Linked DNA regions of Homo sapiens: all the other regions are linked to region 1. Evidence: fine-mapped expression QTL. A gene starts in region 1. Each other region holds a variant in brackets. All regions are shown on one strand. Distances are between the middles of the regions. Region 1 holds the start of GRIN3A (glutamate ionotropic receptor NMDA type subunit 3A). Region 2 overlaps GRIN3A (glutamate ionotropic receptor NMDA type subunit 3A). Region 3 overlaps GRIN3A (glutamate ionotropic receptor NMDA type subunit 3A). Region 4 overlaps RNF20 (ring finger protein 20). Region 5 has its middle 330 kb from the start of LINC00587.

Region 1 (6,246 bases):
AGATGAGCCCTCAGGGTCTGCTCCCCTAAACTGACCTAATTTTTTTCTAGATTCATTCCCTTCTAAAATTCTGCTACCATAGATTCTCTAAGAGCTCCATATATTTTTTGTTTGTTTGCTTTTATCCAGGAAGATTCACATGACAACAAGGTCCTTGGCAATAGAAACAAAGGAGCCAATGTGGAAGACAGCATAATTTGAGACTCTGGATATGCACTAGCTAGGGGAGAACACATTTTTCATCTGAATATTGATAAAAATCTACATAATTACTATTGCAAAAAAAAAAAAAGGGGGAGACCCAGAATTGGGGACATGCCATTTAATATTATGGCCATTTACAAAAACAAAGATAGATGTGAATGCAACTTGTAATAAGTCAAGGTATAGGAAAAAACACAAGATAGTTTTCCAGACTCACCAGAAGCCTCCCATTCCCGTGGAACTTGAAAAGATTCACAGGAGGCTGCATACTGTTGCATCTATACAGACAACTGTTAAGATCTGTCGCCACAACCACAGTTCAGAGGAGGAATCTTCAGCTGTAAGAGGTTAAATGTCATATCCATAGGCGAAACAATACTGAAAAGAGAATCTAACTCCTAATTCCCACAGCATCCTTTACTGTAGCCTTTCCTTGGCTACCACCATAGCAATATATCTCAGCTTTTAGTCCATCCATTGCTGGTACCAGAAAACACAGATGTGAACAAAAGCACATGTTAAATTGCGAGCATTTGGATTTGTTCTGGTTTGACTCTCCAACATGGGTTCTTAGATCAGTAGTTCTCATTCTGAGTCAGATAATAATTTTTAAAAAGCTTCATCTCTGAGTAAGCCAATTTTGAAATTTGACTGATTTTAGCTACCAACCACACAGCTGGGAAGAACTTAAAATATTGAAGCCACAATGCTACTCACTATCTAATGATTTTGTGCAGATAACTCAACTTTTCTCAAATTCAATGTCCTTTTCTTTAGAATGGGGATGATCACACAAACCTATTGAGGTTGATTTCTATGATTTGACAGTAGTGTTATTTTTCATGTGGCTTATTGCAATAGCCTCATCTCCTTTTCTCATCTTCTGGCGTCCACTCTTAACCACTGTTCATCTATCAGTAACAAAACAACTGTAGCGATCCCGTTAAAGTATTAATTCTATCACTCTTCTGCCCTCCACTCTTAACCACTGTTCATCTATCAGTAACAAAACAACTGTAGCGATCCCGTTAAAGTATTAATTCTATCACTCTTCTGCCCAATGTCCCTGCCTTCATGCCTTCTCATCTCATTCAGAGTAGATGCCAAAGTTCATTTGCTTACATTGTCTGCCACCTCTTCATTGCCTCTCTGACCTGACCTGCCACCACTTTCACCCTGGATCATTTTGCTCCGGCCACTCCAGACCCCTCATTATTCTTTAAACCTTCCAGAAACACTCGGGGCCTTGGCATGTAGTTTCCCCTGCTTGGGAATTCTTGCCTAGAGTATTCACATGAATCACTCCCTTACCTCCCTTTACATCTTTATTCAAAAGCTGTCTTCTCCGAGAGGTCTTCCCTGGCTTTCTCACCTAAAATTACAACCCAACCTCTTCCTAATACTTCCTCTACACTGCTTTCTTTTTCCACTTAGCACAAACTAACATACCCTACATTTATTTACTTATTTGTATATTTTATTGTCTCTTTCACACTAGAATATAAGCTCTATGTTAGCATTTTGTTCACTTATTGACTATGTGATGTTGTGGAAAGGAGAAAACTCAACTTTTCTAGAGTTTATTCATCTGTTTCCAGGATGGTCCTACAACAATGATTGACACATACTAGGAGCTTAATAATTGGTTGTTGAATTTAAGTGAACTTTGAAAATGATGACCCTTGACACATGAAAAAGGTGGACAAGAAGGAGAAAGGGAAAAGGAAAAAGAAGATTTGGGGAAAGGAGAGAGAACAATTTTGTCAGATATGCTCAGACCACCATGATATGGACAAAGAAAACCAAGCAGCAAAAGGAAAACAGGAAGGACACCAGTGAATTATAATGGGAAAGCCCGGAAAGAAACAAAAGGAAGCCCAAGAAGGGAGAGCCATTCTTCATTGTTCACTCAGTATTCACCAGGTTTAAGTAGAGTTTTATCACGACCTGGTGCAGTATTATCCTCAGAAACTTGGGAAGGTCTTCTGTGTAAGAGCAGTTCAGTTATTCCCTCAAGGCAGTCATGAACTTGTGAAAAACCTAATGCATATAGAGTGATTCTAGGATGCTATTAATGATCAGATCAAACTATTCTCCATCATCATGTTTTTCTTGAGAACCTGATCTGAACATAAGTGTAATGCCAAGGACTAAAAGTACAAGGACTAAGCATGGTCATAACCTAGAAAGTTATACATTATATTCTTCAAAACACACACTCGAGTACAGACAAATATACCTCCTTACTACACAATTAGTAGATACCCAATCTTCCTGCAATGCAAGGACCTCAGACTTCTACACTTTTATTATTCAGATCTCAATCAGTGGAATCCTGTGGATCAAGGGGGAATTTCCAGCACACTAGAGGCAGCTTTTCTCCATTCATGGGATGTTCTCTCAGGCTTCAGGAGGGTTTCTTTCCCTCCTCATTCAGCCCACTACTATGATTTTCACTTTTTTTCTCATGGGAGACTTTTCTTCTCTAGCAACCCAGTCTTGCAAAAACGATGCCGAATGTCTGGTAAATTTGTTCTGAGATACCTTTAAAGATCTGGGCTGGGGAAAACAGCATTCACTTTGCAAGCTTCTTGGGATTTTTACTTAACTAGAGTCTCTTCTTCCCAGGATTTAAAACATGATGGAAACTTTAGCTCATGAATCAAAACAACCCTCCAGAGCTAAAAGCCAGCTGTATTTGCATAACAATTTAGCAGATCCAAACAGCAGGGCAAGGTCGGGTGAAATAAGTTGCCAAGGTCATGGTCATGAAGTAGTATTAGACTCAGAAAGGCTGATCCCCAGTGCTTGCTCCACCCCATGGATCTCTCCTACCCTCCTTCTAAACGATACTGTGGGATAAAATAAAATTAATCTACTGTATATGTGCAAACCACAGGCCTGCCCTTAACTCTTTCCTTACCTTCTAGTTTCAGATTATTCAAATCATGGAGGAAAAGATTAGATCACAACACGTTGACTTCACTGTATTACCATACAAATGAAATAACTTAGTACAAACTGTGATCTGGGGACTCTTGATCTAAACTGGGAACTGCTGTTGACTGCATTTTAAACTCTAAAAGTATTTTGAAACTCTTTAATTTCTTGAACTGAAAAAATTGCTTTGAATTCACTTTGTTTTAATTCTGAGAACCTAAAAACAGGGATTCTTTAAAAAAAAAATGCAAAGGCTCACATGCCAGAAAGAAAGAAGCTGAGGAGATAAAAATGTGTAAATAATTCTTACTTTAATACCCTTAGCTAGAAAAACCTTAAAAGCGACACATCCAGAAGCTCGTTAAGTCACAGCCTCTTTGAACCTATTTCAGTGAACCACCGAATTTCAGATCCCTCAGGTGCGACTCTGAATTCAGAATTCTCACCGGCTCATAGTCCTATTTTCCTTCTTAGGTTTTAGGGAATTTTGCAAACTATGACGCCCAGCCTTTGAGGGGAGAGGACTTTCCAGGGGCGCGGGATGTGCCACTCGGGAATCTCACCAACAGTGGGCGTTTAGCGCAGCCAAGCGACAGGCAGGCGCCAGGGCTCAGCAACAGGGAGGCGCCGGCTGAGGCGGGGAGAACTTTGGCGCTCGGAGCAGAGCCACCCTTTGCTGGCCAGTCGCGTTGCTCCTCCGAGGAAGCAAGCGGCGGTGGCGACTCGGTGGAAAAATAACGAAAGAAAGGCAGAGAGGAAGTAGCGAGAGAAGAGAGAAAATGAAGTCGGCGCTGGGGGAGCCTGCAGGAGGGTGGCCAACAGTGGAGGAAGGTGGATTTGGCTTCTTTTCCGCACCCCGGGCGTGAAAGCCCTCTCCAACGCGACCCCAGGAAATAAGTGGGTCTCGCCTGGGCAGAAAAGGAAAAGAATCCAGGCGAGAGCGCGTCGCTCCTCTGTCACTGCTGCCCCCGAGGAACTCCGGCTGCTTCTCATCCCGGCCGCCTCGCGGGGCCGGACGCAGTGCCCGAGGCGCCCTGCAGATGGGGCGGGCAGGGAACGGGCGCTCCAGCTGCGGGTGACAGGCGCCGGCCCGCCCGCCTGCCTGCTCAGCGCAGTGACCGGGCGGGCAGAGGATGCCAGGCGGAGGGACCTGGGAGCGGGATCTGAGACTGCCGGAGGCGCGCTACGCTCCAACTTGCATGGCCTAGAGACCGCTCCAGCTCCTGGGACCGCTTCACCGAGTGGAGTGAAGCTGCGCGCGGGACCTGGAGGCGGAGACCTCAGGCAGCGGCTGCAGAGGGGCGAGCCGGGCGCAGGAGGGGGCGCGCTTTCTCCCTGCGGGTCTCAGTAATGAGGAGACTGAGTTTGTGGTGGCTGCTGAGCAGGGTCTGTCTGCTGTTGCCGCCGCCCTGCGCACTGGTGCTGGCCGGGGTGCCCAGCTCCTCCTCGCACCCGCAGCCCTGCCAGATCCTCAAGCGCATCGGGCACGCGGTGAGGGTGGGCGCGGTGCACTTGCAGCCCTGGACCACCGCCCCCCGCGCGGCCAGCCGCGCTCCGGACGACAGCCGAGCAGGAGCCCAGAGGGATGAGCCGGAGCCAGGGACTAGGCGGTCCCCGGCGCCCTCGCCGGGCGCACGCTGGTTGGGGAGCACCCTGCATGGCCGGGGGCCGCCGGGCTCCCGTAAGCCCGGGGAGGGCGCCAGGGCGGAGGCCCTGTGGCCACGGGACGCCCTCCTATTTGCCGTGGACAACCTGAACCGCGTGGAAGGGCTGCTACCCTACAACCTGTCTTTGGAAGTAGTGATGGCCATCGAGGCAGGCCTGGGCGATCTGCCACTTTTGCCCTTCTCCTCCCCTAGTTCGCCATGGAGCAGTGACCCTTTCTCCTTCCTGCAAAGTGTGTGCCATACCGTGGTGGTGCAAGGGGTGTCGGCGCTGCTCGCCTTCCCCCAGAGCCAGGGCGAAATGATGGAGCTCGACTTGGTCAGCTTAGTCCTGCACATTCCAGTGATCAGCATCGTGCGCCACGAGTTTCCACGGGAGAGTCAGGTGAGAGGAGCCTGGTGCGTGGAGTGGAGATGGGCGCTGCTGGGGGCCGGGGCCATTGCATGAGGGGAGAGAAAACGGCTTGGTAAAGTCTGAGGGGAGTTGTTACTTTATAACTTTGATATTGCTTAACGATTGGGCCATGTTCGTAGGTGGTAGGTAGAAGGAGCTTAGTAGAAGTAGAATAAAATATTTAAAGCGCGGATGGAAATAAAACGCGCAGTGAGGTCGCGGCTGGAAGGAAAGAAGTGGGGAGAATATGAGAGAAAATCATATTTTGACCGGCTGGGAGAAATCTAGTAGATGCCCGACGGGAAGTAGAAGTCGAGGTTCAGGACCGTGGAGAGCGGTGAAGGTTCTGAAGAACTACAAGAGCAGGGTATGGGGGTGGGGTATCCCTGACTCCTGGCTAGGTGTCACACTCCCAAGAGCAACTCTGACAGCATGTGTCGGAAAAGCAGCATCTGCTCTCTCTGACTTCTTCAGAAGGTGTGCCTGAGCCTTAGGCAAAGGTGTAAGGAAGAAAGCACATCGCTCTGAATTCCTCTGGGTAAATAGAAAATCTGCACCTAGTACAGAAGCCATAGGTAGAGAAGAGTGGTCAATTAGTCTCGGATATTGGAAAGCATTAGAAATATATAAAAGTGTAAAGATGGACGGGGAGATTTATTTGGGGATTGTTTCTTTGTCCCTACTTTCCTTCTATGTAATGTGGACTCAGAGGCTGGTATTCAGTTGCTGTGTTCAGCCCATTTCTCTCCCCATCATCTAAGAATTAAAAAAAAAAAGGAATTAAATGATTTAGTTTCTTATTGATTAAAAAAGCTAAACATATTTTCAATGAAAGAGCTATTTGTGAACTTAACGTTGACAAGTAATAATGAGGAGATGAATCTTTAAGAACAAGACAGAGTCCTTATTTAGTAATGAGTTTTCTGCCTTTTATATGTTACTTTTATCATAATCTCAAGCTGTGTTAAGCCTTGCACAAAGTATCTATGAAGCAAATAGGTAATTGGCATGGGCCCATTTTAACGACTGAGAAACTGAGAAAAG
Region 2 (5,000 bases), 160 kb after region 1:
ATTGGATTTGGTCTGTCCATTTTGACCACCATTGGTGAGCACATAGTATACAGGCTGCTGCTACCACGAATCAAAAACAAATCCAAGCTGCAATACTGGCTCCACACCAGCCAGGTGAGTGCCACAGGTGTCTTGCTCCAATATTCTTAAACTGTACAATTCCTAGGGATGGGAGGATCCAGAGCCCTATGTCAGACTACTAAGTTATGTTACCACAATAACGAGGGTGGGGTAGGCACTCTCATTAGAGCAGAAGGAATTCTCTCTATCCCATTAATTCACTTTTCCCTTAAATTAAGGCATCCCACAGTGCTCCTTCCTTTCCTATAACCCTCCACTGTTGTTCATAATAGAAGAAATAGAACTTTTTTAACCAGGTTTCACTTAATAGTGACAGTCTGAAAAGATGGTGTGAAAGATTTATTTCCTAGGTTCTTTTCTTGCCAAAATTGAAACCTATTACGTGAGTTTAAAGTCCCTGGTCCCCTTTAAGTGACCCCACTTGCCCCTGTTCTCTCTGCTTTTTCCCTGGTCCAGAGGGGTTTGAGACCCATTGGGGCCAAGGCCAAGCTTCACAAGGCCGCAGTTCTCTCCTGTTACCTAGACATCAACGCACTGATTTACAGGGAGAACTGAAACTGTCAAGCAGACTGGTGACTCAAGCACACTCGTTTGCATATCTCTCCCTGAATGAAATTGGCATGGAGACCCAAAATATAGTCAGAAGGCTTCATAATGATGGAAGAACTCTAACAAAGGGAGTGGTTTCACTTGACCACAGCAAGGCTGGATGAGCCATCCTGGCCTCTCCTGTGGTGAGACCACCTCCTGCCCTCCAGTGTACCATGGATTACCTCCCAGCAGGGAGGCTGTCACTTCTGCATTTACCCTATTCATGTATTCATATACCCTCATACTAAACTCCTCACTTTGGTAACACTTTTTTTTTTTCTAGATAGGTTACTATCATTGGTTTGGTTACAGTTGAACCCTGTTCTTCCTACTTTTATCCTGGGAAGTATTTGGTCTTCTAGGAGAACTCCACAGATCTTCCTTATTGTATGCTAATATGATTAACTTAATTCTCAAGAGTCCTCCTTCCCTTCTTTGTTTTGGTTGTCAATTAATTATATACTTTTTACTCATCTTTAGCAATTATGGAAGGCCTTTTGCTACACATTAGTTATGATTGTGCCTCCTTATATCACATACCGTTTTATAATACTGAGCTTTCCATCAGAACACTTTTTTGTTTCTCCAGGTGGAATAATAACCTCTAATTAGAATTTTTGTTCTGTTGAGATTTGAGGCTGAATGTTGATCTATTTTTAGGCATTTCTGGAATTTGTTTAAAGAGGCCAAGGTTTGTAACGACTACATATACTGTTACATCTCAAGTGGTTCTTTGTTCCCTGACCTATGTGTTTCTCATAATTTCTACCTGTGAATCTGTTTTCTCCATCAGAGATTACACAGAGCAATAAATACATCATTTATAGAGGAAAAGCAGCAGCATTTCAAGACCAAACGTGTGGAAAAGAGGTAAGAAGGGGCCAATGGCAACTGTCTTTATATTTGTAAAATAATCTTTAGAGATCTAACTGTATAATTATTCAGATCAAATCAGGGCAATTTATCAAAAGAATCAGTATAAATAGAGGGAAATAAAACATAAAATAAAAAATGTATATGGACACTAAAATGCAGTGTACACAATATACTGTCATGGTTAGAAGTGTAGTCATGGACTCTAGGATCAACCCTCTGGATCCAAATCCTGTCTCCAAGACTTATGATATGTGTTACTTTGTGTAAGTCACTTATTTAATCTCTCTGCACCTCAAGTTCCTCATTTGTAAAGTAGAGATAAAAACAGTACCTATTTCCTAGAGTTGTTGTAAAGATTAAATAAGATCATACATGTACATCTCTGAATGAAAGGAAATGCCTAATAAATATTAGCTATTATTATGTACAAAATACATGTAAGAATTAATGAATACCGCAGGCAATTAATTCCATGTTTTACTGTCTTTTTGGCATATTTCCACTCCCTACTCCTTTCTAGCATTCCTAGGAACAGAGTATTGGAAATATGAAACAGACATGTCATGCCTAATTCATTTCCTGGCACTTTTCTACAAACTCCCTAGCAAAGAGCATCTTATTAATAGGAAATAACAAACATTAAATGCATTAATGACATCTGAAAATCGAAGCTCTTCACTCTCACCACACCAGGCTGTGGATGACTGTTCCCTATTTCATGGTGACTAAAGATGTCAGAAGCACTTGGGTCTGGTTCCTGGCTAGTCTCTGCTGCCTGCTGCCTAAGGCAACCCTACTGATTCTTTTGTACACCCAGAGGCCTCAGATGAGGGCACACCTCTCATCATAACAGAAGAAAAAGGGATGGAAAACAGGATTCTTTTTGTTTGTATCTTTTCTGGGACTGCTGCAGTCCCCTTCTATGCAGTCTCCATCTAGCTTGTTGGAATCATTTCCTTTATCTCTTGAAGTATCTCTTTCCAGTCAATGAGCACTCTCCCCTCCCCTCTCAGTCTGTGGTATTCCTGCATCATATTGCAAGT[G/C]TGTTAGTGACAAGCTGTATACTAGTCCAGTCACAGCTGTTCCATGACATGTTACATCTATTTTTTCTATTTTTAACATAAATTTTTAATAACAGTAACACAAGAAGACATAGCAGCAAATGTATCATCTTACAATGAAAAAATATTTGTTTTCCAGCTATAATAGAAACAGGAAGCCCAATGATCCCATCTCCAACTGTGATATGATTCATATTCACATCTTTCTCACATAAATTGAAAACCATTTGTGTCTTTTGATGCAACTTACCCAGTTTTCTTGGCAGATTCCCTTCCTGAACCCCTTATTTTGAGGATCTAAGGAGAACAGGTGTTCATGGTTTAGCTTGGGCTCACATTTCCTGTGCCTACCTCTATACAACCCAACATTAGCAACCTGTCAAACACAATGAGTGTTTGGCGTACCATAGCCGTCATGTCTCTTTGGAATAGTCCAGTGGAGTATTGAACCTCAGTGTTACATAATTGCTCCAGGGAAGCCTATTTTACCCATTTTTAGTGTTAAATACAGCTCACTCACTGGTCATGTAACACTCTAAGACTGACGAAGGCTTGAATCAAAGCAAAGCCTAAATGTTACTGAGGCTAGGAGTATAACACCAGCCTTGGGTTATTTTTTCCAAGTAGACACTGAGTCTTACACTCAGCATTTGTCACCTTGCACTCATAGGTACCCACATCAAATATCAGATGCCTGGTGATACTAGCAACTAGAATTTGGCACAAAGTCCAGCATTTGTTTATTCTTCTATATTATATTACCAGATAGATATACAAAGCTCTGGAGAAGACCAGTCCAGCTATCTTTACTTACCTTATCACTGTGGCTGTCTAGACAGTTGAAGAAAATGTGTAGATGCTCTACTCTCAGGTTTTCCCTGCTATGAACCATTGTAGGGCATTAGAATGCTCTCCCTCTCTTCTCTTGGAAGTATATCTATGCAAATGCTCATGCATGCTACAACTTGACATCCCTCCTCTGTGCCCCATATTTACTGAACAAATAAAAGAGCAAATAGATAAATGAATGAATTATTAACATGGGTTTGAGGAAATGCTTGGAGAAATTTTGGGCCATGATATGGAAGTAGGTATTGTCCCTTTCTCATTTAATGCAAAGAAAATAAGGTACATATTGCAGGAGATGATTTATATATAGCCCTGGGTTTATTCAACATGTGATTTCACATAAGGTTTTGGTCTATCTTTCATCTCACTGGGTTCCCAATCAATACATGTCACCCCTGTTTTCCCTTTCCTCTCACCCCAAGACACACAAAAATTACAAACTACATAACAGCACAACCAAGATTACTTTAAGATTATTCAAATTCAATAGGAAAAGATTTGAAGAAAAAAATTAAAGGGAATTATAAAGCTAGAAGAAAAATTACATCTCCTCTCTGACTCAGGTCTAAAGCCAATGGAGCTATAAGTGGGTTCATTACAGAACTTTTACCCAGCCCAGGATACAAGAAAACTGAGCTCTGGTACCCTCTGCTCATTTATATAAAACTTAGACTATGAGGCATGTTAAAGAACCACAGGGTGGTTTGGAGTGTGTGTTTCAATGGCTTGGGTCATGTATAAGTTGGTCTTTGCTATGTGATAAATCATCCCAATACTTAATGTTTTAAACAACAGCAAGTTGCTTACTAATTCATGGATCAACTGTGCAGTTTGCTGATCTGAGCCAGACTTGGCTGAATTTGGCTGGGTTTGCTCATATGTCTGTAGCCAACTTTGGGGGATGGGGAAAGCAGCTAAGGGCTGTCTGGTCTATGATGGCCTCAGCTAGTCAACTGGGAAGCCTGAGGATTCTCTCCATATGGTCTACCATCATGCAGCAGGCCATTCTGGACTTGTTCACATTGCAGCAGCAGGGTTCCAAGAGAGTGGAAATGTGCAAGACTTCTTAAAAGTTTAGGCTTGGAACTGCCACTCTGATATGTCTGCCACTTTCTGTTGCCCAAAACAAGTTGTGAGAACACTCCTAACTGAAGCGGGGAGGAAAGCAGATTCAGCATAGGTACAAGCTGCAAAGTCACATTACAGAGGGCATAAATGAAAGGAGAAAAGAAGGTTTATGGCCACTTTTACATAAAGACTTTATTATTCTTCTCTTTCCCCTTCTCCTTCCAGATTGTCCCCTTCTCCTGGCAAGTAAGAGTCCAGGAAAAAAGTCAATTCAGTTACATGAATGGGAACAAAAACACAATGGCTTGGTAGGGTGTTTCTATTTAGTTTTGTCCTGTGGTAGATTGCAAAAGTTGTCATAACCCTCCTACTCCTCCTCCTGCTTCTTCTCCTATGGTGGAAAAAATCAGCAGCTATGCTGCTTAGGGCTCTAATCTATTCTTGTAGTGAGAAACTCTCCTTATCTCATAAGTA
Region 3 (5,000 bases), 150 kb after region 1:
GGCCATATGTATAGACACAGCAATGAATCTGCCAAGTTCTTTTGAGCAACTAACTATTCTTCTGGGCAAAATAATCAGGAGGCAATAAATAAATAAATAAATAAATAAAATAGATACCAGGTCTTCAAAATTAGAAATAGCATTTGCTTCTTCCTTGTCCTGCTTCCAAGCATCTATGAGTCATCCATATTTCAGAAGCACCACAGCCTTTTTCTTTTCCTTACCTCTCATTAAAATCATTATTTCTCCCCCTGCCACCAGCTCTCTTATTAAGGAAAAAAATTCTTGAACATCGCATTTGGCTGTGCAGATCCAGAGAGGAGATGATACAAAGCTTAGTGCATTAGGTCACTGAAAAATACAATTATTTTCCCAGGTTCTTGCAGTCATTTTGCTCTGGGGAAAAATATTTAATAGGGAATGTCAGAGTAAATGTAATTAAGTTACTTTTCAGACATGTGCTTTTTATTTTTTATTGAACTTACTATATACTAGGCTGCTGGAGACAGGCAAAAGCAACACAGCCTTACCCTGTCAGAGAAGACTTCCTAAAACAGGCTCCACCCGTTCATTTCTGAGATCTGCGTCAGGATACAGTCTATCTCAAAAGAAGTTATATTCACACCTCGGAGCTAGAGGACCTTAATCCTTTAAACAGTACATATATTGAATCAGATTATTTGGTTGCAAGCAACAGATTTTTTTTTTTTTTTTTTGAGATGGAGTCTCGCTCTGTTGCCCAGGCTGGATTGCAGTGGTGCAATTTCAGCTCACTGCAGCCTCTGCCTCCCGGATTCAAGCAATTCTCCTGCCTCAGCCTCCCGAGTAGCTGGAACTACAGGCACCTGCCACCATGCCTGACTAATTTTTGTATTTTTAGTAGAGACAGGGTTTCACCATGTTGATCAGGCTGGTCTCGAACTCCTGACCTCAGATGATCCACTTGTCTCGGCCTCCCAAAGTGTTAGGATTACAGGCGTGAGCCACTGCGCCCGGCTGCAACAGATTTTTAAACTTAAGCAAAACCTATCAAAAGAATAACGGGAAAGCTCAATGTTTTGAAGTAAGAAAGAGAGTGACAGATGAAGCCTCGAACCACAGCACTCCAAGGATGCTAGTGCAGGAACTAGGGGACTATGTCTTTGGGGCACTGACATTGGAAATGACTCATCTCCAAACACCTTTGATATCCAGTGTTTCTGTTTCAGATTCACATTGACTGGCCTTGAGTCTCATGCTTTGCCTGGTGAACAGGGAGCAGGGAGTCTGTGATTGGTAGATACACCAAAACCACATGAAGCAGGAAGAGGGCAGTTCCCCAAAGAAAGGATCCTAAGAAAACAAAATCAATACATTCCTCCTGAAATTTTTGCATTCAGTTTCCAGTGTTTTACTTCAGTAATTTAAAAAATTTTTTGTCCCAGTTTCAACAGTAGATCCCTAGATTGGTGAATATTAGCATGATCAGGTCAGGCTAGCAAAACTGGGCCTTGTTTCCTCTCCTTTTAATTGAGAATGTCCATCTCCACCCTTCTCTCTTAAACAACTGTTCTAGGAAGCTTCTGTGATATAATGAGACTGTTTGGGATCGGGGGTGGGGGAAATTATGCAAATTTATTTTATACAAAAAATCCTAGTTTTCATATGCTTTCATTCATTCATTTAAAAAATATTCACCGTGCTGGGCACTGTTCTAAACAAGAGTATGTATCGAGCAAAATGGACAAAAGTGCTGCCCTCCTGTAGCTTACATTCTACTTTGCTGGGGAAATAGGCAATAAACAAATAAACACATACTATGTCAAGAGAGAAATAAAGCAAAGTAAGAGAGATAGATTGTATCTGAAAGAGGATGGAAGGGGGAAAAGAATTTGCCTTTTTAAGCACAGTGATTAGGGTAAACTTCATGGATAGGTGACATTTGAGAAGAAACCTAAAGAAAGTGAGGGAAGGAGCAATATTGATTCCTGGCAGAAGAGTTTACAGGCACGAACAGAAAATGAAAATACCCTCAAGTGGCAAGTTGCTCAATAGATTTAAGGAACAATAAGGAAGCCCAAATGGCTGAGCAAAGTCAACCAGCGAGAGAGAAGAAGGATATGAGGAAATAGATCTTGTGAGGCCTCATAGCCCATTGCAAGGACTCTGAATTTACTC[C/T]GCAAGAGACAGAAAACCATGACCAGGCATTGAGCACAGGAGTGACATGACAGTCATTCTCACTGCTGTGAAGAAGACAGAAGGGGTTAGGGAAAACAACTAGGAGGCTGTCTCAATAATCTAGGTGAGGTGAGAGGGGATGGTGGCTTGGATCAGGGTGGTTGGTGGAGGTGGTGGGATGTTGAATTCTGGATATACTTTGAAGGTCGGTTCCACCATATTTGCAGATACACAGGGTAATGGGATGCTAGAGAAAGACAGGAATCAAAGGTGGTTCTAAGGTTTTTTTCCCTGTGTCATGGCAAGGATGGAGGTTCATTGTGATGAGAAAGACTGTGTAAGCAGCAGGTTTCAGAGGGAAAATTAGGAGTTTGCTTTTAATGTGTTATCTTTGAAATGTCCGTTCATTACCTAAGTAAAGAGGCAGAGTAGGAAGTTAGGACAGAAAAGCCCCCAACTCTTGGGAGTCATTGACATCTGGGTGGTATTTAAAGCTGACTCTGAATGAGAACATGAGTGTAGCTGAAAAACTGAAAGCATGCCTATGTTTACAGTCAGAAAGATGAAGAAGAAAAGCAAAAGAGACTAAGGTACAACAAAGAGAAAGAAGTATCACAAAAACAAAGTTAAGAAACTATACCAAAGAAGATGGAGTAATCAATGGCGTCCAAGCTGCCGATACATGAATAAGGTGAAAACTGACCGTTAGATTTGGCAATATGGAGGCCATTTTTTACTTTTACAGGAATTGTTTGACAGGTGATGGGAGGGGACAAAAGTCTGATTGAAGAGGGTCTAAGGGAGAATGGGAGAAAAGGAATTAGAAGCAATGAGTATAGACAACACTCTAGAAAACCAGAGAAATCAGGTGGTTGCTATGTGCTGGGAGGTGTGGAATGGGCACAAGGAAGGATTAGCTGCATAGATCTTGATTAGTAACATCAAAAACAAATGATGAGTGAAACACTTTATCTGCATTTCTTGCTGGAGACTTGAGAACTAGTCACTACTCGAGCCAGCTGTCAGATGTTTCAAGTGACGACATCTGAACAAAATACAAAGCAGGGTTTGGGCAACAACAAAGTTTATAATCTTATCCTATACATGTTACTGATCTGGTCAGAGACCACACCTGTGATAGTACAAACATCTCCTTTTATCTGAATTTGGTCCATTCCTAGAAATGTGTTGGCTAGTAAATTTATAGATGGTGGAAGCCCTTTCCATTATTTCAAATGGAAAAAATAATAAAGTATTCCTATTTCATCCAAAAATCTCAAGCAGTTTCCCTAAATTCGCTAAAACACTCTTAGACACCTGTAGACATTTAATATCTAATGCACAATGCATGGATATGTGACAATCTACCAAGAATTTCTGCATAACATAAAGCATTTAAAACATTAGTTGTATAGTGCATAATTTGTTGGTATTCCTCCATGCAACATGCAGAGTACAGTATCAGATACAAACTATGTTTTTTCTTCACAGTGTAGTAAATATATACTAATGTAAATTAACAATAAAATGCTAAAGAAACATAATGAATATAAATAACCTTTAGAAAAATGAAATACATGAGCAAGGCAATTTTTTGAATGATTACTTACTAGTTAAAGAGTTGCCTAAGTGAGATGGGGTGGGCTAGAGTAAGTTTGTGAAGGACCAACTGGAGCAATAAATGCCTGAGATTTGTCCCTGGCTCAATCCTGGGACTAGCCGGGTGCAGTGGCTCACACCTGCATTCCCAACAATTTGGGAGGCTGAGGCGGGCAGATTACCTAAGGTGGAGAGTTCAAGCCTGGCTAATATGGTGAAACCCTGTCTCTACTAAAAATACAAAAATTAGCTGGGTGTGGTAACACATGCCTGTAATCCCAGCTACTTGGGAGGCTGAGGCATGAGAATTGCTTGAACCCGGGAGGCAGAGGTTGCAGTGAGTCAAGACTGTGCCATTGCACTCTAGTATGAGCCTCAGAGTGAGACTCTGTCTCAAAAAATCCAATCAAATCAATCAATCCTGTGACAGCCTTCTCTCCCTGGCCCTTGAGTCTCTGGAAGTGTGTGGCTATGAGCTAGCAAATGAAGCTGCAGCTGAAGCAATGGGATAAAGGGGGAAAAAACAACAACCTCAAAACATATGTTTGTTTGCATTCTTTTTGCATTCATTTACATGGCCCTTGACAGCATGAGACTGGACTTCTGCTTGCATTTCTGAATGTGCTACCACTCAAGTCACTTGCAGCTGCAATTATCATTTTGTCTGCATCACCTGAGTGTATTTTAAATATTTGATATTGAATATTCATAACTCCTTCTTTTCTTCCTCTGACCAATAATGAGTATCAAGTTGAGCAGTTTTTTACTAGAAAGAAAGTTTTCACTTGATAATATGGGGAAGATGCACATATGCACAGCACATTTAAACAATGTGATCCTAGGGGAGGAACCGCTGAATTACAAAGGCAGCTGTATGTCTTGTCACTCAGACTCAGACACAATTGAAACATTTTCTCTGGTGTTCACAGGCAGATGATAGTGGATTTTCCATTCCAATGTGAGTTTTAAATAAAAAATTGTGATAGTTGTTATAGCGAATAGTGAAGATTCAACTAGAAAAGGATACCTATAAATGGCGATTGTTTGAGAAGCATTGCAGGCTTTGGCATCAGACAGTCCTGGATCCGCAGCCTGGATCCCGACTTAGTAGCTTGCATGATCTTGGGTAAGTAAGGTTATTAACCCCTATAAACCTCTGCTTTCTCAAATGTGAAATAAGGATAATAACACTTAACTTACAGGGTAATTATAAGATCATAATACAGGTATATTGTATCTGGCAT
Region 4 (6,509 bases), 180 kb after region 1:
AGGAAGAAATCTAAGATCCCTTGATTCAATTCTACTCTACAACAAGGTGCTAAAGGAACTCAGTGAATTCAGAAACAAAATGTAGTTCTAATCCAGGGCCTGGCAAAGAGTCTAGTTAGATTAGAATGATCAAGGATAAGTATAGTAGGTATATGTAAGTCTTTAGAAGACTTCAAAATGACTCAGAAAGTATTTTCACTTATTGTCTACCTGATGACATGTACTCTATTAGTACAGGTCTCCGATTGGGATAAAAGAACAATGGAGTTCTCATAGTAGCATTTCAATCCTGTGGCTAACCTGAGTGGCCCTGGAACCTATTTCCTCACTTCTAAAATAAGGACATGGTCTGAGTTCCCTTTCAGCTCTAATATCCTCAGAGCATATTATTATTATATTAATGTGAACATAGCTTCCCTCAAAAAAAAAAAAGGTTAACTTACAATAAATGAAGCTTTTATGCAGGTTTCCGTAGCGTAGTGGTTATCATGTGTGCCTTGCAGTAAGTGAAGTCTCAGCTACATGAGACTCAGCAGTCTCATGAGCTGCCACTACAGAAGTGTTAGTTTTAGAATTCATAATAATTCCTTTTATTGCCACAAAATAAATTAAAACTGTAGTCATATATTTTTGGATAATACAAATTTGAAGGGTTACTTCGATATATGGGGAAAGATTGTTTCTACTTAGGGGGTGAAAAAAAGAAAGAGTAATAAGGTTTGAATCACACATTGGCCCAGTAAAGCAGACTTCGGAAGATCTGGCAGCAGAACCATGAAGCAGAATTAATTTAATCATGAAAAACTTTACTGACTACTATGTGCCTCTGCTAGATATTAGGGATTAGACTGTTAAGACATTGTCCTTTTCATGTCCTTTAGTAATTGTGAAGTAGGCTATAAGTAAGACCTTAATAGCTAACATTTGGAACAGACCAAACATGGGCAGGAATCCCAGAAGGTAAAGCTCATTCTTTCTGATAGGACCACTTTTAAGTATTTCCAAACTTTAAGATCTAGAAAATTTGTAAGTATTTCTATGTCATGGGTTTCCTATTGTGCAAACCCAATCCAACCTACACATAATCCACCATTTTTCTACTAATCTCAGTGTATCTGTCTTAACATCAGAAAAGCAGACTTCTGCAATAATGACTAATCAAAACTTTTCTGCAGATCCACTGGGACATGGGTTTATCTGGCAGTCCTCAGATAAATCTTCAAAGAACAATATGTAACGGCATTCCACATCCTAGCAAATGACAATGGGAATAAAGATGAGAGTAGCATATGCTTCCGGCAAGTGTAAGCATCACCATCCTAGTAGGTTTAGAAGACTGATGATTATTTATTGTCTAGAATCTTCACAAAATCAAATCACAGTCATCACTCTAGTGGCATGTACATTAAACTATGTGCATCAAATTCCGGCCCTTGAAGAACAAGGAAGCCTACGGATCTGGACAGAGAAAAAGGAAAAGGAATTGCAATGGAAATTCATGTAAGAAAACAATTGCAGAAACAGCTCAATACCTTTGAAAAAGATCCCTATAGTAAGTAAGAAGGTAAGATCCAAGCCATGTAGTTATGCATGCCTCAGAGCACACCTGACTTTGGTCAAAGTCACTAAGAAATTTCCAAGGTAACAATGAAAGAAAGAAAAAAGAGAGAGAGAGACCATCCCTACAAAATCTGAAATGGTTGTTGTTTGTTTTTGAGACAGGGTCTCACTGTGTCACCCAGGCTGGAGTCCATGGCATAATCACAGCTCACAGCAGCCTTAACCTCCGGTGCTCAAGCTATCCTCCCGCTGCAGTCTCCCAAGTAGCTGGGACTACAGGTGTGCACCACCACAGCCAGCTAATTTTCGAAATTTTTTGTAGAGACGGGGTCTCCCTATGTTGCCTGGGCTGGTCTCAAACTCCTGGGCTCAAGCAATCCTCCTGTCTCAGCCTCCCAAACTGCTGGGATTATAGGCGTGAGCCACTGCACCCAGCCTGAAGTGTTTTTAAGAAATGAGAAGCCTCTAGGACTTCTATAATAATCTTTGAAATTGGCATTTATAAGCATTACCTTAAAGAAATTACCCTTTAAAGTTCATATGGATCAAGGGCTGTGATTGCTAACTAGGATCCAAAAAAGCTATGAATAATGTACATACAATACAAATAAAATTTGGTATGCAGTTTGGGAGTATTCCTAAAGCGCATTCATTGACCTCTTCTGTAGTGAGAGAAGCCAACTGCCAAAAAATCACCATCATTTTTGGTTGTTATCTGAAAATGACTGTGAGAGCTCAACTTGTGTTGCCAGGACCTCAAGCCAGTTGGGATCAGGGGCTCCCTGCTCATCTCAACTAGAGGAACTTCCTCTAAATCCAACTTCCCATGGGGCTAGTGGTTTCCTCCACAACATTCCACAGGCCCTATGGTCCCCTGGTGCTGGGCAGCTGGCTTTCTCAGCCAATTGTCACAAACAGCCAACAGCCAAGCCCAAACCACCTGTTGACCAAGCAGTATATCTGCACCCAACCAACAAAGTTATGCTCAAGCTTACCCTATAAGAAGAGCAAGAAGCAAGGGGAAAGTGTCCTATTACTAAATGAAAACTCACTGTGTCCAGAAGCAGGAGCTAATCCTGTCATGATGGTTCTGTGGGGGTGGGGGTGTTTGCTGAGCAGGGGGATCAAGGGACCCATGACCTCTCTTGATGACCTAGTAAGATTCTTCAATTAGACTCATTGCTTAATTCATACCACATGACTTTGTGGAATTCAGTGCAAATCCTGCTGATTATAGCTGGTGACCACA[G/A]AAAGACACAGAATTTGCTCTTACCTGTCTTCTAGGACAGGTGGTGATCAAGAAGGATCCATTTTACACAACCCCTTGCCAGAGATTTATGAAACCTCTGGTTTGCTGGTTATTATAAAACATAATGCAGCTGGGCATGGTGGCTCACACCTGTAATCAAAACACTTTGGGAGGCCAAGGAAGGTGGATCACCTGAAGTCAGGAGTTTGAGACCAGCCTGGCCAACATGGTAAAACCCCATCTCTGCTAAAAATACAAAAATTAGCTGGACATGGTGGTGAGCACCTGTAATCCCAGCTATTCGGGAGGCTGAGGCAGGAGAATTGCTTGGACCCAGGAGGCGGAGGTGGCAGTAAGCCAAGATTGTGCCACTGCACTCCAGCCTGGGCGACAAGAGCAAAACTCCATCTCAAAAAAAAAAAAAAAAAACCCACCACATAATGCAAGAACTCTCACCCTAAAGCTAGAGGCAGCAATATGCTCCCCCAAAAAACAAATTATAGTCTCTTACCCCACCTAATGAACTATGAAAGATAACTGAGTAGTCAAATAAATTAATCTTTTAGGTATAATTTCTCCATAGAATAGACTCAATAAAAGAATTGGGAGAAAAGTGCTTCAATTAAGCAAAGATCTAAATACTCTAAACAAGGCCAACCTCTTAACCTAAGCTGATTATTTCCATGCAAGAAAATTTAATTCTATAACAGCAGATATAAAATCAACTTGTAATAATAAAGACAAAAGTTTCAAAGAAAAACCATAAACACAAATGCAAACTGAATCCTGCTTTAATTCAAGCTTGTGGAGAACAAAGTCCTACAGAAACATTCCACAGAATTTTCTGGAAAAGAGGGATCACAACAACCCTGTAAAAAGGAGACTGAGAGTAATTCATAGCTCACCAAGTTCTCTCCGTATCAAATTTCCAGAATACCCACAAGATTTCTTCACCAGCTCAGTCCTGACTCAACCTCTTCAATCTTTATTTCATTAGAAGACAAAGGGTCATATTATTTAAAATTATTCTAGTCTCAAGAAATTTAAAGACTTGAAGTAGTAGAGCATTCAAAACTTAAATAACTTTAACAAGAAAGCCAGCTGATCTTAACAAGTTACTCTGCTAGTAAATGGGAAATAGACTGAATCATCCTAGACATAATTTCATTAGGGCTGCAAACCACCCAGGGGAGAGTAGCACAATTATACCATTTTGTAATCCACATTCACAAGAAGTTTGCTACACAAATGAAGAAAACTTTGTGCCCATAGACAACTTATTTTTTAAAATATCACTCCCCAAAAGTAGCCATGTTTCCACTTTTGTTCCCTTTTCCACATCAAAAATACCAACTTGATTTCTTCAGGAGGAATGGACAATCCAAGTTTATACAGTGGGCTGGAAAAAGAAAACACTGAAAAGTCTAAAAGCACAAAATAAACAAAGCTGGGAGGGAAGACAGTAAGAGTTATTTGTTTCTAATTCATTCTGAAACCCAAGGCTTGTATTTACCAGTCCTTTCTGCTAAAGTCATCCAGCTACTGAAGAGGAGAGCCTGGAAGTAAAGTCTGGAGGAAAGGTAGTTGACTGATAAACTGTCCTACAGGTGACAGTCAAGGAGAGAAGAGGTAGAGGTTTGGTGGTTAATGAATAAGTTCCTGACTAGCCAGCTCCTCTTCTTCTCTTGACTTAGATCAACCAATGTAGATGCGATGAAAATCATTGGCACCAAAAGCAGCATTACACTTGGGACATTTGCGCTGGCGGGTGTCATAGCGTGTCTTCACACACTCAAAGCAGAAGACATGAAAACACTTAGTAAGAACAGCATCCTTTTTACGCATGTTACAGCACGGACAGGTCAAGCGTGCCTAAAAAGAAAAGATGTCAGAGTTTGAACAACCATGAAAGTTTATGATCCAAATGGCTCTCATATACTACACAACCAAGAAGAAAACCCACAAGGCACTAAAAAAAGAGCATCATTTCCCCCCAACCTCCAAAATAAACCATTCTCTGGTTACTATCATGCAAATTATTCTCCCAGTCTATTAGGCCACTTAAAGCTTTGACAAAAAACTAATCACTAAGGCATTTTTTCTAACCTTGTAATCCTTAATCTCTTCCATCAGAATCTCATCACACTTGGGTACATTGTCTGGTTTCTTTGTGGTCTCCAGCTTCCTGCGAAGTCTAGAGATGTCCTCCTGTGGCAGGATAGCATACCCATTAGACACACTTACCCAAATCTATCATTTTTGAGAAAAATAATAGACTTGAGTTTTCTGTTGTGAAAAGAGGGGACTTTCTATCCTTTTATGGTCAATTATCTTGTAGAAATGTAGAGAACTGCAAATGGCAGGATATTTTCTTTTGTTTCAGAAGAGGCAACCATAATTATATCCCCAAATTAGAATTGCATCTATTACCAATTCAGTCCTGTGAAAACACATCTAAGAGTTTAGAGGACAGTCTATTTTGTTTTATAGTAATTAGTTTTAAGCTGAAGGTAGAACGGTTTAAAATAATTCAGAGACTTACGGATAAAGACAGAAAGACATCATGAGAAACAGCTAGCATGACAAAAATAGAGACATTATACAAGAACTTGAAAATCCTCTACTGCTGCTATGCTGTTACTTCTTTAACAATTTACTAATTCATTAATTTAACAAATATTTATTTTGTGCCTACTAGGTGCAAGGCACCATAAAAGAGTCTGAGGATATGGCAGTGAAGAAAACAGACTTACTCTCTTCCCTCAACAAACTTCCTCAAGTCTAGTAGGAAATGACATACATTGGACTAATGATTCTTTCATGATATGGGTCACTTCCGACCTCAGAAAACACCTAAAAGGTGACAAGAAAAGACAACTGCTTTTACCTGGGCTCGTTTGAAATTGAACATGTCCTTTTCTTTGGTAACACTGTTCTCCACGATCTCATCCTGAAAATCATGTAGCTTCTTCTGAGCCAACTCCAGTTGTGCTTTGAGGTCATCTGCAAGCTGGGCTGCCTCCATTGCCTATGTAGGATGTACAAATAAGTGACACCATTGTATCACCTATTATTGCCAGTGAGGCAAAATGTTAGCCCAAGTTGAAGGAATAAAGCGAACTTACAATCTCAACAGTGTTATACTTATTTGTTCCACTGAGACTAACCATCATTAGATTAATCAATCATACCTTGCGTTTATTCATCTCTAAGGCTTGGGTCCTAAGACCCAGCTCTTTCTCCCCTGTGCCAATGTTGCTCTGTAACAGATGCTCCTTCTCTTCCAGTTTCCTTACTACCTGTAGCTGGGCATCAACCTTTGAACAGAAAATCAGATTTTAACACAAATGAAAAGATTAAAAAAAGAAAAAAAACTATTCTGTTAATCTATAAGCCCACAAAATACAGTATGTTAGAAATCTCAAACTATTACTGATTTTGCCCATGAACCCTTCAAAATACATCAAGACTATGATAACTGAAAGCTTTACTTTTAATATAAAATATTGTGGAAGATTCAGTAAGAGTCTGAAAAATGACTGAAAAGATTCTTTTCCAAATTGCCAAAAATAGAGAATGCATGCTAATGCTTAAAACCTGGCAATTCATACTATAACATATAAATTAGAACTCAAACAAAAGTCCAAGAGTATTTCCTTCAGAATGGCTAGACATTCTAAAAGAGTCTTTTTTGAAATTA
Region 5 (6,509 bases), 450 kb before region 1:
AATATGATGGGTAGGCAGAATAACTTTGATAGCTGACTTACAAAGAAAATAGTAGAACTGTTCTCCCTAATAATGTATCAGTATTGGTTCATTAATTGTGACAAATATAGCATACTAAGTAAAAAGTTAATAATAGGAAAGAATGGTAAAATTTTGTACTAGTTTGCAATAATTTTGTAAAAATCATATTGTTCTAAAATAAAAAGTTTACATAAATAAAACAATGAATGAAAACGAAATGAAATGAAAACAAAACATCAAGTATTTTTTTCCATAACACTGATATGGGCCTTATGTGAAAAATCAACTATAGTGTTATGTTGGGTTTCATCTCCCAAAGAAGTGGGAGTATTCCCAGGTATCTAAGGAATGAGGAAAGACCCAGCCACTCCCAGAATAGAGATGCATCTCTCCATATTTTTATATGTTTTAGTTTATCTCTTTTAGTCTTACTTAATCACTCTACATTGTAAATATATACCAAAACATCATATTGCATCTAATAACTGTATCTATTATGTCAGTTAACATAAAATTTTTAAAAATATTAATAAATATTTGTTGATTGAAGAAAAGAACAATTAACCTATCACATTAACAAGCTAAAATAGAAAAATTTTAATATCTTACTAATATATGAAGAAAAAGCATTTGGCAAAATCCAAAACCAACTTGTGACAAAGCTGCTCAGTAAACTAGGAAGAGAGGACAACATTTTAAACTTGATAATGAATATCTCTAACAAACCTACTTGGGTTAGATTGGAAATTTGCAGAAGAGACCTCTGCCATCTCTTGGTCATGCAGTACAGTGGTTTAGATAGAAGTTGGAACTGTTCTCAGAACTCTGGCAGCAACAGTAGTTATAAGGTAACTGTAGAATTTGCTTTTCATTTGGGATGGGATGTGGGAATAGAGTGAGATATGGATACTGATTATTTCTGTGGGGTATCAGAGTTACACGTGAATTTGTGAATGAGAAGATTTAAGGAAGGAGATATAAATATGAATCACAGACCTTAGTCTAAAGAGTTCCATTTGAAGAGAGATTCCCATACAAATGTTCTCTGAACTAAAGAGGCTGCATTTTCAGAAAATTTGGCAGAATGGTAATAGCCTCAGAACTTTATACAACTTGGCGTTTGGTAGAATTTGTAACTCCTCTTTAAGATCACTTATAGATTATTCAATCATAGATTATTCTCATTTGAAGGTAAGTTGAAGATTAGTTTGTATTGCCCAATTTAAAGTGAGGAAACAGCCAAGAGAAGTTAAAAGACAGCCAAAGTCACAGATCTCTTTACATTCTTTCGAATAATGTGTCCTTTTAGTGACTGAGATGTTTCTATTATGAAATCTGATTTTGATGTATCAAATATTTTATTTTATAGATATCAAAGTATAACATAATTTAGTCTATTAATTAACATAATATATGTGTGTTTAAATAAAATACAAATATGACAATCAAGTAGCAAGTATGACTTCTGGACTAAGACTACTCTTATATCAATGCCTTCTCTTCAATATGTACTCCCATCTCCCTTTCTCGTTGCCTCATACTTCTATGCAACAAAAAATCAGCCCTTCCTTTATCATTTTCAGTGTTTTCAACTTGAGAGTTTTATGAGCATTTTGGTTATTTGTGTATTTTTTGTGCTACTGATGCTAAAAAGCTTCTCATGTTGTTATATATGTCCTGATCACCATGTATTTTGTCTCTGAGAGTTTTGCTTGATAATTTAACTATAATGGAACATGAGCACAAGTGGTATAATGAATGCGGACAGGGCAGACTGACAAAGTAATGAGTAAAACATTTATTTTCCAAAAACAAGCAGTACAATTTTGGTAAATAAGTATGCCGAATCCCAGTCTTTGGAACACACACTCCACAAACACACTTTACATCAAATACAAATATACTTACACACACTTTTAAATAAATGCAGTTGCAGTCTAAAACTAACTGTACAAAGTAGCATTACCTTCAGGATGTATTAATTGGCATATAATATACAGAAAAAATGGTATAGCAAACCCACTGTAATTTGCATAAATTAGACTACATCTACCATAATCACTTCTGTGAATAAAATTTTTGATTACCAGGATAATTAAAAGAAGTGGGATAAGTTCCTTTCATCCTAAAATGAAACAAAACAAGGTAACAACTAAACGGAGGATTTAGTAGCTCTTTCCACAGATTCGAAGAAATATCAAAGAAGAGATTAGACTTACCTATTAGGGTGGAAAATCTAGAAGCTGAACTAATAAGTACAAGTTACTGTCATGGCAACACTGAATTTTCTTACACGTTGTTTAGCCACAGAGTGAGATTTTTTGTAAAATAATAAATTCTTTGTGAATGAGAGTGTACAACGGGGATGGTGTTTTTTTGCTGCAAATGTCATTTAAAAGGATATCTGTAATTGGAGGAAGATTATTTGTAGGGCAATCCCTTATAACTCTAGGCTTTTGTGGTAGACACTTATATTCGAGATTCTACTATATGCAAAATCTTTGTATGCATACAGTAATATATTTAAAATTACTAAGCCTCATTGCATTTCATTAATAAATGGATTCGTTTTTGCTGACACATTGAAGATTACGAATATAATGTTTGAGAGGCCTGTATCTTCACAAATTTTGTTAACTATCCAAAGAGTATGCATTAGCTGGTATTTCATTTTTTCAAAAATTTTCATTGTGGTAAAAGATATAACATAAAATTTAGCATTTAACCATATTAAGTGTACAGTTTTGTGTTCTGTGTATAAAAGTTTGTGCATATTTTGGAACACGCTTTATGCATTTCAGTATTGAGTGATATATCCAGAACAGATTAAAAGTTACATGGAATCTGAAAAAAAAAATCCCCAATTTTTTTTGTATTTATGGATTATATTTTACATTAGAACACAGGAAAATACTACATGTTAAAGTTTTAAAGCAGCTTCAAGAGTTACCTAATTTATTACAGAAATGGAACTTAAAGTTAGGTAGAACTATTTTTGTTCCAAAATATAAGAAATATTTAGAGAAACTCTAAATCTTTTAAAGTAAATTACTGACATGGTCCCTATATTCAGGAAAATTACAAACTAAGAAGAAAGTGTATGTAGAGATCAATATAGGTAAGAACGAAAGCAGAAGGCTCACAAATATATATGATCTAACTC[G/A]TTTCATTTCAAAGCACATCCTAAATGCAATTATTTTTAATTCACCATATTTATCAACAGAACAAACACACTAATGTGTGTTGTTTATCACCAGAAAACAAATAGTTTTATCATTAAAACTACTGAGGTAGTAACACAGCGGTTAACCTATCTTGTGTTTACATAACAGAACTATTCCTTTATACATTTTCACATCAGATTATCATAGCAATTCTATGAAAGGTAATATTAATCCATCTGTTGAGATGAGAAAACTCATAACTAAGGAGATTATAAATTAACTTATCCAGCTATAAAAAGTTAGCACCTGGATTCAAATCAATTCAAGAGTGTTTACTATCTTGCAAGCTGATGAACACTGTATATGCTCTCTTTCCCATATTCCAGTTAGGGTCACTATGCATTTTGGTTTGCCTATGACAATCTCTTTAACATCTGTCATTCCTGAGTAATTATAAATAGAGCCACCTTTCACTTCCAAGATGTTCTGCTTTAGATGATAAATTATGTGGTCATTTAATTATACTCCATATTGCTGGAATCAAGCTATTTCTACTTCAAAGTTTGAAACAGTATGTAGATGTGTATGTGTGTGTGTGTGTGTGTGTGTGCTGCATTTGTGTATGTGTGTCTGTGAGTGTGTAGTCTGCTAAGTTCAGGTAAGGGATTGTAACATGACAAGTCATTTACAGATGTGATGTTGTATTCCTCATTTTCAAGAAATCTAATTAATAAAACATAAAATAGAAAGTATGTAATTATATGGTGACTCTAGATTGCAAGTATAATTGAATTACAAGAAAAATTTAGTCATTTGACTATAAAAGATGCCCTTAATGGAATTTATAAATATTCTTTCACAAAAGGTAGGTTAACGTTCATATGCCAATCAAGAGCATTTTACATTCACTAATATGAGGCCTACTGAAGATTGCTCATTCAAAAAATAATAAAGATTTTTCTCCTTAATGTGATACTCTAATGTCAGGTTACTTCATATAGAATGTTTTTTCTTTTTGATTTTATGGATAGAAGGATAAAAATATAAATTGAAAATAATTTAATTTACTGTATAGAATCAACTTTATAAAATGCCCCACTCTCAAATATTTTAACAAAAATATTAAATAAAAATATACAAAACTTAGTTTATACATGTGCTTAACATATTTCTATAATATTCAAAATTTTACTGGTCTATTATATACATAATTTATAATACACATATGTATTTTACATAGCATTTTATATGCTGTTTATATAACATATAATGAAGAAACTAACATTTATTGAGAAATTATTAAATGCAAGACACTCTTTTAAGCACATTGCATTTATTATATTATCTAATCCTCATAATGATCCTATGGTTTTGAGGTACTGCTAAATTTATTATCTAAGATGATGAGGAAAATGAATCTTTCTCCAATATTATACCATTGTTAAGTATTAGGAACAGAAATCAAATATGAGCAATTTGTCCACATTGAACTGCCTTCATAACCACACATGAAAAACTAGAATTCACATACATAACTTTTAAACTAATATTAACTTCTAATTTATTCATAATATTCTAGAGAAAAAATATTTTTTCGTCATTCTTTCTGGCCTGTTGCTGCTTCCATATCATCCTCTGATCCATTACCATAATCCACTCTGGTCTGTATTGTGAGCTAATACTCTGGTCGGTATTGTGCTAACAGTCTGGTCTGTGTTGTGTGTTAATACTCATGAATATAATCACCATTTCCATTTAGGACTGCTACACTAATTGAAGACTAATTTTAGTTTAGATAGTTCATTTATCTGTGCAATTTACTCAGAGTTTGTGTAAATTTCATCATCAATATTTATTTGCCCTTGTCCTTTGCTTTGCTAATATTTTATAATCACATATCCATGCAAATATTAGGCTTTAGGCAGTTTGGGACAGTTAAAGATGTCTATTCTGCAAATATTCTTATTGCACCTTATTGGAGAAAGTTATGTCTCCCTTCTATGTGGGAAAAATGTAGAGGAGATATGGTTTATGGACTTTCTTGCTGGAATGCTGTCATATGTTGAGAACTATCTTTAAGAATATCTTGCTCCATTGCCCATAAGTAAATTATCTACCATGACTTTATACAACATGCTATTAAACATTTTTGTGGTTACTGTTAGCCCAGGCCTTTGTAACTTAGACACAGTTTCAGAATTTGTGTGTGTGTGTGTGTGTGTGTGTGTGTTATTTAAAAGCAGTTATGACACCTACTTAATTATTTATAACAGTGAGAATCCTTTTGAAATAGTAAATGTTTCCCAGAATCGTATGATTGCTTAGGTCTTGGTTTTATGCATGATGAGAAGATATTGGATATAACTAAATTTCTTCCAATTTTCTGACCAAGTAACTAAATATACATATTTTCCAGTTCAAGCATTTAAGATAATACAATTTAATTCTGCATGTAATAAAAATGCTATTTGTGCTAACTGCTGTTAACATTTAAAAATATCTACATAATTTTAACGACTGTCTAGCTAAGATTTCATTGGGCATTAGGATTTCCAGATTTGTAATTTTTGGTTCTTAACTGTTGTGTCACTCCTATGCAACCTTGCCTATATTTTCCCAAATGGGTTCTCTATTGTTAATTAACACTGAATATATCATTACATCAGACAAACCTGTGGGGGAATGTGGCATTTACTCTGATAACTTATGCTGGGATCCTTTAACAGCTGGAGGTTGTTTTGGCCATCTCTGATTTTCTACTAACTTACATCACCAAATCATTGACATAACAAAGGAACATTACAATTTTGGCTTTTGACAACTTTGTCAGTAACTTTTAAATACTAGTAAATCAGATGAAATCAAAGAAAACTCATTTGGATGAGGGTATCTGATATCAAATGTAACTCTGAAATTTGTCAAGGAGGGGAGTTGTTCTGTGACAGAAAAATTGAGGGAATAATTACTATTTTCACTAAGACAGCCATGTATATCATGCTCATACAAAATATATTCTAATTTTGAATCTTACTTGAAAACAAATTATTGAAATACTATCCATCATGACAAAGGAATACCATACTCGTCCTATTCCCTCACTAGTAGACACCAATAACACATCATCTTTAATCAAAGGATACTGACTTTCGATTTCAGCTTCAAAATGTAGGGTTTGGAAACTGTCACTCTTATTCTTAAGCAAGAAAAATGTAGATCTATAGATTCAATCCAAGTAAATCAAAATCATAGGAAGCAATTTTGTAAATATTAACAAACTAATTCAAAAGTTTATATGGAAAGATAAAAGAATAAGAATAGCCAACA

What was found. PIP is the estimated chance that this variant, and not a neighbour inherited with it, causes the effect. A credible set is the group of variants that fine-mapping cannot tell apart.
Region 2: its variant is the best candidate, but not a certain one, in a credible set for the expression of GRIN3A in T cells (TOPMed, PIP 0.63).
Region 3: its variant is the best candidate, but not a certain one, in a credible set for the expression of GRIN3A in monocytes after R848 (Quach 2016, PIP 0.85).
Region 4: its variant is the best candidate, but not a certain one, in a credible set for the expression of GRIN3A in spleen (GTEx, PIP 0.55).
Region 5: its variant is the best candidate, but not a certain one, in a credible set for the expression of GRIN3A in prostate (GTEx, PIP 0.59).

What each region holds. Positions count from the first base shown.
Region 1 is chr9:101,736,228-101,742,473 of GRCh38, reverse strand. GRIN3A (glutamate ionotropic receptor NMDA type subunit 3A) reads left to right here and starts at 3,827. Exons shown (of 9, transcript NM_133445.3): 1 at 3,827-5,193. The coding sequence starts at 4,495. RefSeq lists enhancers at 3,470-3,993, 3,994-4,518 and a silencer at 5,413-5,707.
Region 2 is chr9:101,574,310-101,579,309 of GRCh38, reverse strand. GRIN3A (glutamate ionotropic receptor NMDA type subunit 3A) reads left to right here. Exons shown (of 9, transcript NM_133445.3): 7 at 1-114; 8 at 1,466-1,542. Among named protein-coding and RNA genes, the nearest start is that of PPP3R2, 18 kb to the left of the region's middle. The variant G/C (reference allele first, on the strand shown) is at 2,592.
Region 3 is chr9:101,583,026-101,588,025 of GRCh38, reverse strand. All of the region lies in intron 6 of GRIN3A (glutamate ionotropic receptor NMDA type subunit 3A), which reads left to right. Among named protein-coding and RNA genes, the nearest start is that of PPP3R2, 9.4 kb to the left of the region's middle. RefSeq lists an enhancer at 1,256-1,305. The variant C/T (reference allele first, on the strand shown) is at 2,158.
Region 4 is chr9:101,560,418-101,566,926 of GRCh38, reverse strand. It overlaps RNF20 (ring finger protein 20), which reads right to left. Exons shown (of 20, transcript NM_019592.7): 17 at 6,001-6,126; 18 at 5,697-5,837; 19 at 4,916-5,017; 20 at 3,583-4,681. The coding sequence ends at 4,505. Among named protein-coding and RNA genes, the nearest start is that of RNF20, 30 kb to the right of the region's middle. The variant G/A (reference allele first, on the strand shown) is at 2,810.
Region 5 is chr9:102,190,316-102,196,824 of GRCh38, reverse strand. No RefSeq gene overlaps it. Among named protein-coding and RNA genes, the nearest start is that of LINC00587, 330 kb to the left of the region's middle. The variant G/A (reference allele first, on the strand shown) is at 3,185.